3 linked regions of the Homo sapiens genome follow. The protein of the gene in region 1 purifies or fractionates together with the protein of each later gene. This does not show direct contact. Each region holds a gene or a part of one and is shown in the gene's direction. Other genes may lie near its edges.

Evidence for each region.
Region 2: the proteins of LRRN4CL (region 1) and PODXL2 purify together in Homo sapiens (affinity purification with mass spectrometry; one large-scale study listed by BioGRID and IntAct). This does not show direct contact.
Region 3: the proteins of LRRN4CL (region 1) and MTX2 purify together in Homo sapiens (affinity purification with mass spectrometry; one large-scale study listed by BioGRID and IntAct). This does not show direct contact.

Annotation. Positions count from the first base shown.
Region 1 is NC_000011.10:62,687,278-62,691,030, reverse strand, and holds the start of LRRN4CL (LRRN4 C-terminal-like protein precursor), read left to right. Parts: upstream 1-1,500; 5' UTR 1,501-1,604; intron 1,605-2,517; 5' UTR 2,518-2,522; coding exon 2,523-3,239; 3' UTR 3,240-3,753. Other genes in the region: BSCL2 (seipin), read left to right, coding at 158-244, 339-419, 510-664.
Region 2 is NC_000003.12:127,663,623-127,667,275, forward strand, and holds part of PODXL2 (podocalyxin-like protein 2 precursor), read left to right. Parts: intron 1-3,653. UniProt on the Homo sapiens protein: Acts as a ligand for vascular selectins. Mediates rapid rolling of leukocytes over vascular surfaces through high affinity divalent cation-dependent interactions with E-, P- and L-selectins.
Region 3 is NC_000002.12:176,328,406-176,332,058, forward strand, and holds part of MTX2 (metaxin-2), read left to right. Parts: intron 1-468; coding exon 469-507; intron 508-895; coding exon 896-1,021; intron 1,022-2,178; coding exon 2,179-2,255; intron 2,256-3,653. UniProt on the Homo sapiens protein: Involved in transport of proteins into the mitochondrion.

The DNA of each region.
Region 1 (3,753 bases):
CTGGGCTGGGCCAGAAGGAGTCCCTGCTTCATCCAGTATGAGGCTTAGGGTATCACCGACTGAGACAAGGGTCAAAGGAAAGGCGAGGAAGGTGAGGTTGGCACTGCCGTCCAGGCACAGCCACCCTAACCCTAACCTGTCCTCTCCCTCTTTGGAGGTGCAGGGCCTGAAGGCCAGGAGGAGTCAACTCCGCAATCAGATGTTACAGAGGATGGTGAGAGCCCTGAAGATCCCTCAGGGACAGGTATGGCGCAGCCACCACACTCTCTCCTTCCTGACTCCTTGGCTTTCTCCTTCAGTGTCTGGGTCTGACCCCTGCATTCCCCTTTTGGCTGCAGAGGGTCAGCTGTCCGAGGAGGAGAAACCAGATCAGCAGCCCCTGAGCGGAGAAGAGGAGCTAGAGCCTGAGGCCAGTGATGGTGAGGGGCATCCTGCAGCGTGACCTGGGTGGGGCCCCCGGTTAATCTAATATCCCATTTGAGATTTTGTTTTTCCCTTTCCTGGCCCAGGTTCAGGCTCCTGGGAAGATGCAGCTTTGCTGACGGAGGCCAACCTGCCTGCTCCTGCTCCTGCTTCTGCTTCTGCCCCTGTCCTAGAGACTCTGGGCAGCTCTGAACCTGCTGGGGGTGCTCTCCGACAGCGCCCCACCTGCTCTAGTTCCTGAAGAAAAGGGGCAGACTCCTCACATTCCAGCACTTTCCCACCTGACTCCTCTCCCCTCGTTTTTCCTTCAATAAACTATTTTGTGTCAGCTTCTTCCTTGACTCTGAAATGGGTTCAGGGCCATTTGAACACCCTGTGTCCCCCATGCATCTCTCACTTTCCGCCATTAGAGGGGAGGTCTTCTTGTCCAGGGGAAGGCCTCCAGACCTGGGCTATTTTAAGCACAGATGTTTCCATTCATAAGCCTAGGAAGTCCAAGGAGGGAGAAGCTATCCTGGCCCCTAGCAAGCTTTCCCACTCCCTGCATGTGACTTTCATCTCCCCCAGAGGAGGGGGATGGTGTAGGGCAGGTCTGCAGAGCTGGGAGACATCATTCTGGCCCCCTCTACACCCCTCCCTTCCTCCCTTCCTCCCTTTCTCTGTCCATTGGGAGGCAGAAGACAGGAAATGACTGCCATGGATGTGGTAGGATTTTTACCAAAACAGCATTTTGCGGCTCAGGCCCGTGCTGTTCGCAGCTGTTTTCCTCTAATATCAGCCAGGTGGCCGCCTTCTATGTTCCCCTCCCCATCCCGTTGTATGACTTCAGCCTTCGGATTCTAAGCTCCTGGCTGCTTTCCACATTCCACTCCCCTTCCAGAACCCAGGCATCCTGGGCTCCAGCTGAAACCATTGCATGTGGCTTTCCCCATCCCTGGCCCCGTGACTCAGTCCCTCTGAAGGGAGCAGCCCTCTTTTTTGGCAATCACCAGGGAGGTGGGGGGAGGAGGAGGGGAGCTAGGTGGTGACATCACAGTCGAAGGTTATAAAAGCTTCCAGCCAAACGGCATTGAAGTTGAAGATACAACCTGACAGCACAGCCTGAGATCTTGGGGATCCCTCAGCCTAACACCCACAGACGTCAGCTGGTGGATTCCCGCTGCATCAAGGCCTACCCACTGGTGAGGAGCTGCTATGGGCCAGAGAGGAGGAGGGAGGCATGCAGGGGCCAGGACTCCTTGGACAGGATTTGCACAGATAGCAGGTGGGGAGGGAGGATTCCAGCGTCCCTATTTTTTTCTCTTGTTTTCAAAAAATACAGCTGTGCTTACAATATTTCTCCATTCTGTTCTCTTTTCTCAACTCTGTCTCCTTTCTGGGTTTTTGCCTGTGTCACTGACGGATACATGTTTTTGTTGAGTTGAGGTCTCACTCTTGTCACCCAGGCTGGAGTGTTGTGGGGCGATCATGGTTCACTGCAGCCTTGAACTCCTGGGCTCAAGTGATCCTCCTGAGTAGCAGGGACCACAGGCATGTGCAGTATATTTTTAATGTTTTTTAACTTTTTAATAATTTTTAAATACTTTTTAATTTTTGTAGAGATGGGGTCTCTCTGTGTTGCCCCAGCTGGTTTGGAATCCTGGCCTCAAGCAATCCTCTTGCCTTGACTTCCCCAAAGTGTTGGGATTATAGGCATCAGCCTAGGGGCCCGGCTTTGTTACTTGTTTTGCTTAGATCTTTTCTCTGGGTGGCAGCTAGTAAATATCCTACCGTTCTTCCCTGGGCTAAGTAAATCATGTCCTCCTCTTCTCTCCCTCAGCACTTTGTTTATTCATTAACTGTTTCTAATACTTAACACATGCTGATCATGCATCTGTCTCATGTGTCAGATCATGTTTTATTTTTTGTCTGAAACCAAGCACACAGCCTGGACTCAGAAGTTGGTTGACAAATGAGTGTGTCTGCCTCATTCCAACTTCTTTCCTCTTCTGATCCCCAGTTGCATTTTCCTGTCTCCAGAGATTGTGTCCAGGCAGAGGGCATGGCAGGCTTTTGGGCTGAACAGGCTTTATCTATCCACCCCTTCCCTTCCAGTCTCCATGCTGGGCTCTCCCTGCCTTCTGTGGCTCCTGGCCGTGACCTTCTTGGTTCCCAGAGCTCAGCCCTTGGCCCCTCAAGACTTTGAAGAAGAGGAGGCAGATGAGACTGAGACGGCGTGGCCGCCTTTGCCGGCTGTCCCCTGCGACTACGACCACTGCCGACACCTGCAGGTGCCCTGCAAGGAGCTACAGAGGGTCGGGCCGGCGGCCTGCCTGTGCCCAGGACTCTCCAGCCCCGCCCAGCCGCCCGACCCGCCGCGCATGGGAGAAGTGCGCATTGCGGCCGAAGAGGGCCGCGCAGTGGTCCACTGGTGTGCCCCCTTCTCCCCGGTCCTCCACTACTGGCTGCTGCTTTGGGACGGCAGCGAGGCTGCGCAGAAGGGGCCCCCGCTGAACGCTACGGTCCGCAGAGCCGAACTGAAGGGGCTGAAGCCAGGGGGCATTTATGTCGTTTGCGTAGTGGCCGCTAACGAGGCCGGGGCAAGCCGCGTGCCCCAGGCTGGAGGAGAGGGCCTCGAGGGGGCCGACATCCCTGCCTTCGGGCCTTGCAGCCGCCTTGCGGTGCCGCCCAACCCCCGCACTCTGGTCCACGCGGCCGTCGGGGTGGGCACGGCCCTGGCCCTGCTAAGCTGTGCCGCCCTGGTGTGGCACTTCTGCCTGCGCGATCGCTGGGGCTGCCCGCGCCGAGCCGCCGCCCGAGCCGCAGGGGCGCTCTGAAAGGGGCCTGGGGGCATCTCGGGCACAGACAGCCCCACCTGGGGCGCTCAGCCTGGCCCCCGGGAAAGAGGAAAACCCGCTGCCTCCAGGGAGGGCTGGACGGCGAGCTGGGAGCCAGCCCCAGGCTCCAGGGCCACGGCGGAGTCATGGTTCTCAGGACTGAGCGCTTGTTTAGGTCCGGTACTTGGCGCTTTGTTTCCTGGCTGAGGTCTGGGAAGGAATAGAAAGGGGCCCCCAATTTTTTTTTAAGCGGCCAGATAATAAATAATGTAACCTTTGCGGTTTAAGAGGATAAAATGGAGGATATTATTATGTGGGTATTTATATGACCTTTGTAACCATTTAAAAATGTAAAAACGACCTGACTTAGTAATGCGAACCTATAGTAGCAGCTACTCCAGAGGCTGAAATGGGAGGATCTCTTGAGCCCAGGAGTTGGAGTCCAGTCCAGCCAGGGCAACACAGCCAGACGCCCTTGTTTTTTATTTTGTTTTGTTTTGGTTTTTTGTTTTTT
Region 2 (3,653 bases), on another chromosome or scaffold:
TCATCTTTGGCCAGGGAAAGCCTCTTTGAGTTGGCCTCTGAGTCCTTTTGACCAATCTATTAAGTGTCTGATTGCTTCCTTGCTTTCTGGCATAATAAGACATTCCAGGCTCACCTTCCTCCCCCAGACATGGAGCCCTCATTCCCTTCATTGGGAAATGGTACATGAAGACCACAGATGGGTACTTGGGACCCTTGAACTTTTGGTGTGCATACTTGAACAATACAGCCTAAAGTTCGTATCTTTTTGCCAATCAATACATAGATATTAAGATGCTTTTATTCTGTTTTCCCTGTTTTTGTCTTCTGTGTTATTCTAATATGTGACCTCCACTCAATTAGTCATCATTATTTTTTATGGTAGATTTTTTTTATTGTAGTAAAAAACATAAAATTTTCCATTTCACCCTTTGTAAATATAAGTTCAGTTGTGTTAAGTATATGCACATTGTTGTGGAACAGAGCCCCAGAACTTTTTCATTTTCAAAGCTGAAACTCTGTACCCATTAAATGACTACCTGTTCCCCAGTCCCGGCACCCACCATTCTCCTTGCACCCACCATTCTCCTTTTGGTTTCTATGAATGGGACTACTCTGGATACCTAATAGAAGTGGAATTAGACAACATTTGTCATTTTTACATCTGGTTCATTTCACTCAGCATAATGTCCTCAGGGTTCATCCATTTGGTAGCATGTGGCAGAAATTTCTTTTTTTTTTTTTAAGGCTGAAAAATATTCCATTGTATGTATATACCACATGTTATTTATCCATGCAGCTGTCCATGGACACTTGCATTGCTTCCATCTTTTGGCTATTGTGAATAGTGCTGCTGGGAATGTGCTGTGCAAATATATCTTCAAGACTCTGTTTTTAATTATTTTGGGTATATACCCAGAAGTGGGGTTGCTGGATCATATGGTAATTCTATTTTAAATTTTTTTGAGGAATCTCCATACTGTTTTTCGCTATGAGTATACCATTTTACATTTTCGCCAGCACTAGGGTTCCAGTGTTTCCACATCCTCATAAACACTTGTTCTTTTCTGTTTTTTTAAACAGTGGCCATCCTGAGAGAAGTGAGGTATTTGGTTGGTGCAAAAGTAATTGCGGTTTTTGCCATTGAAAGTAATGACAAAACCCGCAATTACCTTTGCACCAACCTAAATGGTCTCATTGTGGTTTTGATTTGCATTTTCCCTGATGATTGGTGATGTTGAGCATTAGTCATTATTATTAACAGTCAATGCTTACTATATTTTATCAACATACTTATTAGTTTCTTTGCCAGATTCACCACTTGTTAGAATTTTTTCAAACCATTTGAGAAAAAGTTGAAGACATTATTTCCTTTTGCCCCTACCCCCAAATACATTAGTTTGTGTTTCCTCAGAACAAGAATATTCTTTTAGATAACCACAATGGAATGGTCAAAATCAGGAATTAGCACTGCTACAAAACTATTATCTGATTACCTACCTTATTTCAATTTCACCATGGTTCCAATAATGTCCTTTATAGCCTTCTTCCCTCCCATGCCGGGATATAATCCATGGTCATGCATCACATTATTTGTCTTGTCTCTTTAGTCTCCTTTAATCTGGAATAGTTCCTCGGCCTTTCTTTGCATTTAATGACCTTGACTTATTTGAAAAATGAAAGGAATAAATGTGCATAAAAACTGATGGGCTATACAGAGACTACATATTCAGAAAAAGACAGGGAGAAAAGTGCTGGCAGTCTCTTGTGGAAAGTTTTACACGATGGAACTACAGGAGTTCCAGGAGTTCAGCCCTCAAGATCTAGAGAAAGTGATGCAGGCTCAGTGGCTTCTATTTTACCTAGATGTCACAGGTAACATAGAAGAAACTGGAAAGAAGTCTAAGAAGGAAACATGAGAGGAGGAAGAAAGATAAAACAGGAAATCCAGAGGTGGTGTTTTTGAGTTCTAGAAGGCAAAAGAAATCCTTACTGTAGAGATGCAAGGATCTGATCCTTTGTCTAGCACAACAGAGAGAAGTGCTAGAGGATAAGGACAAGGAGGAGAAATATGTGGATCATCCTTTAGTGAAAATCCTGAAATAGAGCTTCCATGCAAAGGGCTGGATCATCAAGATCTGGATAAAGAAGCAGCGTTGACACAGTGATGAGGCGCCAGTCCTTTGCCTGAGGCTGCAGAGTTTCTCAGTGCATGCCACACACGTGCTTACAAGATGTTCCAGGCTGCATGGGACTTTCCTTGCCCCAGCCCCCAATTTAGCCATTTCTGCAAGGAGTCCTGCTTCCTTTTAATGAGGAAAGGTATTTAGAAACTAAGATCTGGGCCCCAGGTGTGCTCATGGCTACTGGGGTGTCACTGCTTCTAGGCCCTTCTAGAAGAACTGAGCAATATGGATCTTTATTTCTGTCTCTCTCTAGGGCATAGATATACATATATCATGTATAATGCATGTACACATATTAAAAGTACAAATTCAGTATTTCCAATTCTAATCCATCACCACTGGATGATGTCCTCCTGTGCTTACTGCTACAAACTTTAGATCTGTAGTCCATCTGGAATTAGTTTTGGTAAATGATGTCAGGTATGAATCAAGGAACTTTTTTTGTTTTCCATGGGATATCCAGTTGTCCCAGCACCTGTGATTGAATAAGTACTTTACTTATTCACAGTAAGGTAGGGTGTCAGGACCATTGCCCATGTTTTTAAATAGGGAAACTGAGGCTCAGAGAGGTACTTCTTTTTTTTTTTTTTTGCTGACATCACAGAGAGCTGACAAATGGCAGAAGCAAGATTTGAACCAATGTATTTATTTATTTTTGTCACCCAGGCTGGAGTACAGTGGCACAATGTCAGCTTACTGCAGCCTCAACTGCCCAGGCTCACGTGATCCTCCCACCTCAGCCTCCCAAGGAGCTGGGACCACAGATGTGCACCACCATACTTGGTTAATTTTTTTGCATTTTTTGTAGAGACGGAGTTTGCCGTGTTGTCTGTGCAGGAGTTGGAACTCCTGGGCCCAAGTGATCCACCTCCCTTGGCCTCCCAAATGTTGGGATTACATGAACCAGTGCACCTGGCCAGAACCCAGATTTATTTGATTCCAAAGTCAGGGCTTTTCCCCCTTGCCACGGACATTCAGTTTTCCTGTCTACATAATAAGTGGTATGAAATCTGCAGTCATCAGATCCTCCCACACTGACATTGTGGGTCTCTGGGCTTAAGCCAGGCAGACATATGTACCCAGGAAAACATGGGGTGTGCAAACACAGCAGAGCACAGAGCCACAGCACAGAGGGCAGGCACTTCATGTGGCAGGAGAGTGCTTGTTTTGTAACCAGGGGTCTGTGGGTCATGGTGCATGGACCCTTGCTCTGGCAGGGGCGGGCATGCACTCCTTCTCCCCCCATACTCAATCAGTGAATAAAGTAAGAACCATCACAGAACTAGGGGTTTCCATCTGCTCTATGGCCATCTCCAGGTACCCATCTTCTCCCACATTTAAAACTCAGTTGGCTGGCTATTAGACCAGTGAGTGCCAAGGCTTGAGCCTGAGCCTGGCATTTGCCATGGTAACAAAGAACAGAGGCCCAGCATTTCAATCCCTCTGGTAGCCTTTAGGTTGGCATGACAACTACGGAACAGCTCATTAG
Region 3 (3,653 bases), on another chromosome or scaffold:
GCTTGAAAATAAGCTTTTTCTCTCATTCTCATAAAATATAATCTTTCTTATGGGTTAAAGTTATTGAGAAATGGGAAAATAGTCAAGTAATTCTAGAGTTGAGTTGGCTACCTAAATTATTTGATTATTACCTTTGAACAAGTTACCTGACATTTTCAGTTCTAGTTTTTCTGTTTATAAAAAGGAGTGATTCTTGCCTACTCATTATTTTACTTTGGCCTTTTGAAATTTGCTTAAATAATATCTGTAAAACACTTTAATGGTATTTAGACATGTATTGTGTGAATAAAAAATATTTTTATAACGTACCATCATTACATTTTTGTGGATAGCAGCTAAGAAAAACAAACCGCTACATGTGTGACTTATGAAATTAGCTTATAAAAAATTGCCTTGGCAAAAAATAACTTTCTTTATCCTTTTCCTCTTTGGTATTCTAAAGTTTAGTGACTGTTCTTTTGTTCCTAGCTGTATCTTCAGTGGTGTGATGAAGCTACAGTAGGGGAGGTGAGTGGTTCTGTAACATTTATCTTAATTAAAATTTAATGAGAAAACACTTTTGCTCAGAATCGCAAGTCCCTGCTCATAAATGAAACATTGTGGTTTATACCATTAGTGATATAGTTTTTCACTTACTTTAATTTTGCTTGCACATAACATTTTAGGGAAGCTATGTGTCATTGTTTGATATAACGGGTTGCAAAGTACATAAAAGTTTATATATTTTTAAAGGGAATGGCTTAAAATTTTAATTTTTTAGATTGCAGGATGTGTATTTTTTTCAGATTGCTCTATTTATGTTCTCTGAAAATATATTTCTTTTAGAATTCTATTTGTAAAAACGGGCATTGTTTTTAGGAAGGATCACCTTTTTTACAAAATCTTTTTACTTTAGATCACTCATGCTAGGTATGGATCTCCTTACCCTTGGCCTCTGAATCATATTTTGGCCTATCAAAAACAGTGGGAAGTCAAACGTAAGATGAAAGCTATTGGATGGGGAAAGAAGACTCTGGACCAGGTCAGTTCAGGTTGAAGTTGACAAAACCCTCAACTTTTATGCATTAAAAGAATCATTCTTTATATTGATACTCCTTTAAAAAAATATATATAAGATTTGCAAGAAAACCATTTCCTGTGATTTTCACTAACATGAAGTAATTTTATTTCTAAAAAATCATACATGCTTGATGTAAAGCAAACAATGCAATGCAGATATGTGTAAAAAAGCAATAAAACTTGCCTGAAATCTCATCACCTAGAAAATACCACCCTTAACTATTTGGAGAGCCTTCTTCTAGATGTTTCTTAGTAACATTTTCTCAAATGGGATCATTATGCCTGCTACTGTATAACCTGAGGGTTTTTTTTTTTTTTTAATTGAACAATACATTGTGGGCACCTTTTATGTAACTAAATATAGATCTGCAGCATCAGGGCTTAAAAAAAAAGCCCTGTTAAATACAGTACTTTGTCCGTCTGTCTGTCTATCTATCTGTCTATCTGTCTATCTATCTGTCTATCTATATTTTTGCTACTAAAGTAGCAAAACTTAAAAATACTTATCTTGTCCACAAGCATCATTAAGTTAATTAATGCCCGTCTTTTCCAAGGCTACCCTTAATACTAGCCAGCCATCTCACTGATGTGTGCCATTGGCTACAAGGGGGTTTCAGTAAATGAATAGGGATAGAATAAATAAAAATCTATCTCCACTAGTGGGAAAATAACTCAAATGCTTTTACTCATAGTGGGTCAATGTTGTTACCTTTATTAAGCAGATTTTTTGGTATATGCAAAGCCATTTGAATATATGGATTCAGGAAGACACTTTTGTTCTTGACAAAATCCTTATAAGTAACTTAAATGTACTTGTATTTTGAAGGACATTCACTGAGAATTTCTTCCTATTTCTTGTATACAAAGTATTATATATATATACTTATATAGAAAGTATTTCTTATAAGTATTTCTTATATAGAAAGTATTTCTTATAAGTATTTCTTATATAGAAAGTATTATATATATATGTGGTCTATGGTCTTATTAAAATATATTATAAAAGGTTAACTTAAATTTATATTTTTGTTATAAACTGTGATACAAGTTACGTTTTAGATACTTTTTATTGTTTTGCTAATTGAAATACTTTTCCTTGGGGTTCATTGCCTGTGTTAGGTCTTAGAGGATGTAGACCAGTGCTGTCAAGCTCTCTCTCAAAGACTGGGAACACAACCGTATTTCTTCAATAAGCAGTAAGAAATTTTACTTTTTTAAAGTTAATTTTCTGTACTGTTAGGTTGCAAATTTCTTTTTTTCATAAAAGAATTGCTTTTTCAAGAAAATATTTAGCTATTTTTATAATTTTTGTACTCAAATATTTTTGTGGCACTTTACTCTCAGGCACAGTGCTAGGCTCTAGGAGACTAAGATTTCTAAAATATGGTCCTTATCATTAAGAATTTCTCTTAAAGGCAGTCATGTAAATCAATCATTGTATGATAAGGTTTTAATGAGGTAGTTCAAGGTGCTATACATGGAACTACAAAATCTTAACAAAATTCTAAACTTGTACTATTAAACATGAAGGAAAGTAAGTTACTATTAATGTAACTATGGTTTTCTATATAGAATGATAGCTGGAGGATTAGAAGAGTCAATAAAACTAAATATTAAAAAATATTGTTTGATGGACAAGCACTATTATGAACTTATCTTTTAAAATGTTAATGAAAATATTTGTAAAACACAGAAATTAATATAAAGGATATAGGTTAAATATATGTGTATATATGTAAGTTGAATAATGTTTCATTAATAGATTTGCTTTTGCAGTTTTGAAAAGACTCTAATGAAGGCAAAGAATGAATTTTCCGTTGTTAAAAAATTACAATTTTAATATATCAGAATCAGCTGTCCTGTGATCCAGTGTAAGATGGGCTTAAAGCATTTTAATCTCAAAACTTTCCCTAGAAAGTCTGACCTTTTCTTGACATTTTAATAAAAATTATTTGATTTTTAGATTAATAATTTCTAAAAGGCTTTATTTGCTATTATGTGTTATATCGTCATAAGCATTCCTCTTCTATAACCATATCAAACATATTTGGGTAAAGATAATATTTGTAGTAAAAATGGCTATGATGATAGTTTGGAAATATTTAAGTTATATTAATCTATAACACAAGTAATATATACATATATAATTGATATTAAAATCTGGGTTCTGTTGATCTTTGAAGCAGAAAAATCTTCAGAATTCAAACTGTGAAATTCTGGTGGGTAAAGCTTCTACAACTCTGTTCCTGTTTCTAGTGATGTTTGCTCTACAGATTCTATTTTTCAGTCCCTAACACAAGAGAAATGTATCCAAATGTCAATATTACGTGATTTCTTTTCTTTCTAACAGAGGAATTCTTAGGAATTGAAAAGCTCAGAAGGGGTGTGTTTTATTGAAATGCATTATTCTATTTTAGTTTTGTTATGCACACTGTCTTTAGAGGAGGCCAGGAGAATAGATCTAACTTACTTTTCTTCTCAGTTAAACTCATTGTCATTGTGTTAGTAACCAGAGTTTGGCATGTGACTCAGTGGAAATATCAAGATATCATTTTTCTTCATAAGGGCACAATTACATTTACACTTGTGATGAA